2 linked regions of the Homo sapiens genome follow. The protein of the gene in region 1 interacts with the protein of each later gene in a biochemical or structural test. Each region holds a gene or a part of one and is shown on either strand. Other genes may lie near its edges.

Region 1 (4,169 bases):
TCACAGCTTAGTTTGGACAGGAGCCAGGGGTGAAGTAAATCAAGTACTTAGGCAGGCCAGCTTTGCCCTGAATAGCTCAGCTTTGTCCATTCCCTCTGGCCTTCAGCTTGTGCCAGCTTGGAGGAAACCTCTGGCTTCTGCCAGTCCTAGCCTGGCCCAGTCCAGGCCAGCATGACCCAGGGTGTGTTTGTCCACATGAAACCCCTTTGGGTTAAGAAAGTTTGTGGTTTGTGAGGCTGCAGCTCAGGGAGGCAGGGCAACACAGCTCTTGATTTAACTTTTTTCATTTTATTTTCATTTTTAGATAAAGGGACAATCAAACTCAAGGTAAGCCGTTGATTTTTAAAATCATAAACCTGACCTTGGAAATAAAGAATTGAATTGGGCCAGGCGTGGTGGCTCACACATGTAATCCCAGCACTTTGGAAGGCCGAGGTGGGTGGATCACCTGAGGTCAGGAGTTCGAGATCAGCCTGGGCAACATGGTGAAACCGCATCTCTACTAAAAATACAAAATTAGCCAGGCGTGGTGGCACATGCCTGTAATCCCAGCTACTCGGGAGGCTGAGGCAGGAGAATCGCTTGAACCTGGGAGGCGGAGGATGCTGTGAGCCGAGATTGCACCATTGCACTCCAGCCTGGGCAACAAGAGTAAATCTCCGTCTCACCAAAAAAAAAAAAAAAAAGAAAAGAAAAAAAAAAAAGAATTGAATTGGGATGGAATAAGAGAAATTGCATGTGTTGTGAGAAAAATCATTTTTAAAAAAGAGATGTAAAAAATGAATAATGAGGCTGGGTGCCATGCTCACATCTGTAATCCCAGCACTTTGCGAGGCTGAGGTGGGTTGATCTCTGGAGCCCAGGAATTCAAGGCCAGCCTGGAAAACATGGTAAAATCCTGTCTCTACAAAAAAAAAAAATACAAAAATTATCCATTAGCTAGGCATGGTGGTTCACGCCTGTTCTCACAACCACTTGGGAGGCTGAGGTAGGAGGATCGCTTGAGACTGGGAGGTTGAGGCTGCAGTGAACTATGATCGCACCACTGCACTCCAGCCTGGGCAACAGAGTGAGGCCCTATTTAAAAAAAAATGAGAGAATAATGAAATTTAGAAAAGGAGAAATCCACCGATAATCCAGTTTTCATACTTTTCACTTTTTCATGTTTTCCACACATTCTTGTTCATGCACATACATTTTCTTTTCATAGTTTCAGTTAAAGGACACACACCACTGGCCGGGCGCAGTGGCTCATGCCTGTAATCCTAGCACTCTGGGAGGCCGAGGAGGGTGGATCACCTGAGGTCAGGAATTTGAGACCAGCCTGGTCAACATGGCAAAACCCCATCTCTACTAAAAATACAAAAGTTAACTGGGCATGGTGGCGCACACCTGTAATCCCAGCTACTCGGGGGCTGAGGCAGGAGAATTGCCTCAACCCATGGGACGGAGGTTGCAGTGAGCCAAGATCTCACCACTTCACTCCAGCCTGGGCAACAGAGTGAAACTCCGTCTCAAAAAACAAAACAAAACAAAACATAACAAAAGAAAACAAAACACCGTGGTGTTTCCTAGTCCCTCTTATCACACTGTTGTAAACAACTTCCATGTTTCCAAGTCTCTGTAATTGGAATTTCCATTTCATTGTAAGCAGCATCCTATTGCACCCCTCTTAAATATCAGTTTGCTAAGCCCCCAGCTAGATTTTTTCTAGATTGTTTCAGTGGTTTTTTTTTTCTTTTTTTTTTTTGAGATGAAGTCTCACTCTGTCTCCCAGGCTGGAGTGCAATGGTACAATCTCAGCTCACTGCAACCTCTGACCCTGGTTTCAAGCGATTCTCGTGCCCCAGCCTCCCAAGTAGCTGGGACCTCAGGCATGCACCATCAAGACTGGCTAATTTTGTGTGTGTGTGTGTGTGTGTGTGTGTGTGTGTGTGTGTATTTTTAGTAGAGATGGGGTTTTACCATGTTGGCCAGACTGGTCTGAAACTCCTGACCTCAAGTGATCCACCCACCTTGGCCTCCCAAAGTGCTGAGATTACAGGCATGAGCCACCCTGCCTGGGCTGTTTTCAGTGTTTTGATACTGTAATCCTTAAGTCGCCAGAATGTTTGTATGTAAAGCCATATTAGCATTCTGGATGCCTTCTTTAGGCTAAACAGCCAAATTGAAGAATTACCAGCAGGACCCAAGCCTCTCACTGGGTCTTGCTGTGTCCTGGAATACACAGCAGTACCTGTTCATGGAACCACCTGCAGTACATTAGGGATCAGATTTCTCCACTGCCTCTCAGACATTGAATATTGTTATTTTTAAATTATTATATGTACCAAACTATGTAAATAATTTTATGACATGGGTTTTCAAACTGGAGTCCTTGGATTTCAGATATTATGTAAGCCCTGGAATTGCGGCATTTGGGGGGTTAGCTATTCCTTAACTTTTACCACATGCTCAAAGGAGTCTACGAATGAATGGGCTAAATTGAGAATTATTTTAAATTATAAGGCGCCCATCTCCATTGATCAGAATGGAGGCTGAGATAGTTCCTTTTGTATGAGGTATACCACTAGTGCCTATTTGCTGCAGGACAGTGGTCTTCCTGCCTTACTTTTTTTTTTTTTTTTTAAGCAGTCTTGCTTTTTCTCCCAGGCTGGAGTGCAGTGATGCAATCTTGGCTCACTGCAACCTCCGCTTCCTGGGTTCAAGTGATTCTCCTGCCTCAGCCTCCCCAGTAGCTGGGATTACAGGTGTGCACCACCGTGCCCAGCTAATTTTTTTGTATTTTTAATAGAGATGGGGTTTCATCATGTTGGCCAGGCTGGTCTCAAACTCCTGACCTCAGTTGATCTGCCCACCTCAGCCCTCCCAAAGTGTTGGGATTACAGGCGTGAGCCACAGCACCTGGCCCCTCCATTACATTTGATGATAGAACCCTTTCTCTAAGGCAGCAGTTCTCACTCAAGGGGGCTTTTGCCCTACAGGGCACATTTCGTAAAGTTTGGAGACATTTTTGGTTGTCACAGCTGGGTTGGGGCTGGGCGGTGCCAGGTGCTACTGGCATCTGGTGGGTGGAGGCCACAGCTGCAACTCAACATCTTACAATGCGCAGGATCCCTTACAGCAAAGAAGGATGTGGCCCCAGAAGTCCACATTCAGGAAACCCTGAACCAAAACCCTAGAGCAGCAGTCCCCAACCTTTTTGGCACCAGGGACCAGTTTCATGGAAGACAGTTTTTTCCACGGACCAGGGAGCAGAAGAAATGGTTTCAGGATGATTCAAGGGCATTCCATTTATTGTGTGCTTTATTTCTATTATTATTACACTGTAATATATAACGAAATAATGATATAACTCACCATAACTGAAGAAACAGTGCAAGCCCTGAGCTTGTTTTCCTTCAACTAGATGGTCCCACCTGGGGGTGATGTGAGACAGTAACAGATCATCAGGCATTAGATTGTCATAAAGAGCATGCAATCTAGACCCCTCCCATGCACAGTTCACAATAGGGTTCACACTCCTATGAGAATCTAATGCCACCACTGATCTGATGGGAGGCGGAGCTTAGGCAGTAATGTGAGTGATGGGGAGCGGCTGTAAATACAGATGAAGGTTCATTTGCTCACCCACTGCTCACCTCCTGCTGTGTAGCCCCATTCCTAACAGGCCATTGACTGGTACCAGTCTGTGGCCCAGGGGTTGAGGGTCCCTGCCCTAGGGCTTCAATGCCTACAGAAGCATAAGGAAAAAAGAAAAAAAAAAAAAGACCCTAGAACTCCCTTTCCTGGCTTCCTGTGATTGGATTTCTTTTCCTCCCTCCTCCCTTCCTTCCTCTCTCTCTCTCCTGCCTTTCCTTTGTGTGATTAGATTTTTCTCTCTCTTTCTCTCTTTTTGGAGACAGAGTCTTGCTCTGTCGCCCAGGGTGGAGTGCAGTGGCACGATCTCAGCTCACTGCAACCTCTGCCTCCTGGGTTCAAGTGATTTTCCTGCCTCAGCCTCCTGAGTAGCTGGGACTGCAGACGCCCCCACCATGCCCAGCTAATTTTTGTATTTTCAATAGAGGTGGGGTTTCACCATGTTGGCTACTGTGGTCTCAAACTCCTGACCTCAAGTGATCCACCTGCCTCAGCCTCCCAAAGTGCTGGCATTACAGGTGTGAGCCACT
Region 2 (2,735 bases), on another chromosome or scaffold:
CCCAGGATTTTTTTTTTTTTCCCGTGAAAGTCCTCAAGCCTGTCCTCTCCCTGGCCCGATCCTATTGCAGCGACAGAAAATCAGCAGCGGGCGGGTCTGTGTGGACCTGAGGGCCGCGTGGGGACCGAGGGGGGCTGTGGCCCAAAGAGTGGCAGTGAGTGGCGTCAAGGAACCCACACTCCGCATCTGCCACTCCTAGAGCCGGGACTAGCTCCCGATCCTAGCAGTTGCTCTCGAGATCATCCCGGGAGTTATTGGCGAGTTCTGGGCCTCTGGAGGTTTCCCTGTCAGCCTCCCCGGCCGCCGAGGGGGCGCGCGCCCAACAAGGGGGTCTCTAGCGGCCACCTGGGGACAGAAACAGTGACCCTGGGCGCGCACTTTGCCTCCCCGTTAGAGATGTCGCCCACGGGATCCTTAACGAGGCCTACCGCAAAGTGCTGGACCAGCTGTCCGCCGGGAAGCACCTGCAGTCGCTCGTGGCCCGGGGCGTGGGGTAAGAGTTTGTGGAAGGATTAACCTGCGCGCGCCGGGGTGGGTGCCTGTGCGGGGCGCGCGGGGCGGGCGGCGGTGGGTGCCCGTGGGGGCCAGGGTGAGTCTGCGCCCCTGGGTCTGGGGTGGGCATCCGCCACGGGTCGCAGTTGGAGATTTTGAAGTGGCACTTTAAATTTGCCCAGAGAGCTCTGGAAGAGGCAAAAAGGGAACGCGAGCCAGGGAGTTTGATCCGTTTTGAATGAAAAGAAAGAGAAACCAAACCAAACCTCTCAGTCATCCAAAACCTTCAGGCTTCCAGGGAGGTTTTGCTATAATTTTCTCTAAGCATGACTGTTTCTGGGGGAGGGGAAAGGGGTGGTTGTATTTACTGAAAATTCAAATCGAAATAATAAATGGCCAAATGTGGACACTTATGGACCCAAACAGTTTTGCTCACGCCAGAGAAACTGAGAGCACAGGGCTTGTGTGAAGCCTATCTCGGCAGAAGGCAACATTCTAATAAAGCCCGTGGGAAAACAGATTACATTTTCGCCATGAATAAGTCATGCAGTGAAAAATATTGCCTACAGCCTGTCGACTTATATTATTATCACGTTTTTCAACTCGGCGTGAGGAGGGAGAGGAGTGTTCATATTTGACTAGGAATTGCAGGATCGATGCAAACTCCAGGGCAGCAGCCAGACTGGCATATGTAGGGCTCTCCGGTTACTTTCTCTGTATGTCGCGGGTGAGAGGAACAGCGAGGACAATTTAGCGCAAACACACGAAGGGTCGGATCTCAAGGGGGCAGCGCTGGGAGAAAGGTTAGGCTTGAAGCGCGCGTCGCCTGCCCGGATCTTATCCCGGGCCCCCTCCGCAGGGTTTGGTGCCAGGAGATCCTGCGTGGGGAGGGGGGCATCGAGGGGCTGCCGTCTCGGCCCTCCCCACGGCTGCTTCCAGGCAGAGGCGGGCGACGCGGTGGGCAGTGCGAGCCCCGGGCCCTCCCCGAAGGCTCCCGCGTGGGGTGGGGCCCGCCTGCTCCCCGCGGCGATTGAACCTGTGTCTCCCGCCCCGCCACCCTCTTCCCGACCCCTTTGCTTGCAGTGGGAGCCTCGGCGGCGGCGCGGGGGACGACGCGGAGCCGCTCTCCAAGCGCCACTCGGACGGGATCTTCACGGACAGCTACAGCCGCTACCGGAAACAAATGGCTGTCAAGAAATACTTGGCGGCCGTCCTAGGGAAGAGGTATAAACAAAGGGTTAAAAACAAAGGACGCCGAATAGCTTATTTGTAGCGATGGGTTACCAGCTACCCTGTGTATACAGCCCTGACGCAATGAAAAGTCGTTTTCCAAACTGACTCAACAGTCATCGCTCGTGTGTTCTATCCAAACATGTATTTATGTAATGAAGTAAAGCCATTAAATGAATATTTTGATAATAATATTGTTTTTCTTTCTACAAAGCACTAGAGAATGCACAGATATACTTTGTGGACCAATTATTGATATATATTATAAATATATATAAAGAATATATATATATATATATATATATATATATATAAAGTATAGAGAGAAGTTCATACAAAGCGTGCACAAGGATTGAAAATTCGCCCGAGCTGTTTATGTTTTTATAAAAATAAATAGAAAAGTAGACAATCATTGTTTTGAATATTACTCCTATTTTTGTAAACTGGAATTAAAAGGATAGTATTTTTATCCATGACAGGCCTGAAGATATTACTACTTACCATTTGCTACTGTACATAAACAATGATGCCCTGCTCCAGGGAGATTTTGAGGTAAAGATATGGAGAATTGCTGAAGGGCATTCTTTCCCAGTGAGTCTCTGGGGCAGGCTGCTTCAATCCCAGCCTAACTCAACTGGGCTCTGTCCCCCTGGTTGGGTGGCAATTCCAATATTTCTGCTTTCTTTGATTCTCCTTTTATGTGTAGTTGTCTCTCTTCAGACTCTCAGCCCAGAAGAAAATTCTCCTGATAAAACAACAGCTCGATCCAAATTGTGCTTCTCCCCAGAATTCACGCCTCTCCCTAGGAGAAGAGTTGAGGAACTGTACAGAAAAGGGCGGCTTCGTTAGACCGCTCTCTTTTCTGTACTTCCTGAGTGGCCAGGGAATCTAATATCCCCAAATTAGGGCAATTGGAACAAAGTGAAGGACATAGAGGTATATTGGAAGAGGCAGAGCCTGAGGTGGTAGGAGGAGGACCCTGGAAATGGACTGGTTTGAGATTGCCCCAGGTC

Evidence for each region. The genes of interacting proteins can lie anywhere in the genome.
Region 2: the proteins of CPAMD8 (region 1) and ADCYAP1 interact in a test that uses a peptide from one of them, tested with the Homo sapiens proteins (one study listed by BioGRID).

Annotation. Positions count from the first base shown.
Region 1 is NC_000019.10:17,016,489-17,020,657, reverse strand, and holds part of CPAMD8 (C3 and PZP-like alpha-2-macroglobulin domain-containing protein 8 precursor), read left to right. Parts: intron 1-304; coding exon 305-327; intron 328-4,169.
Region 2 is NC_000018.10:907,871-910,605, forward strand, and holds part of ADCYAP1 (pituitary adenylate cyclase-activating polypeptide preproprotein), read left to right. Parts: intron 1-394; coding exon 395-493; intron 494-674; coding exon of another isoform or gene 675-720; exon of another isoform or gene 721-1,562; intron 1,563-1,575; coding exon 1,576-1,765; 3' UTR 1,766-2,735. UniProt on the Homo sapiens protein: PACAP is a neuropeptide involved in diverse array of physiological processes through activating the PACAP subfamily of class B1 G protein-coupled receptors: VIP receptor 1 (VIPR1), VIP receptor 2 (VIPR2), and PACAP type I receptor (ADCYAP1R1).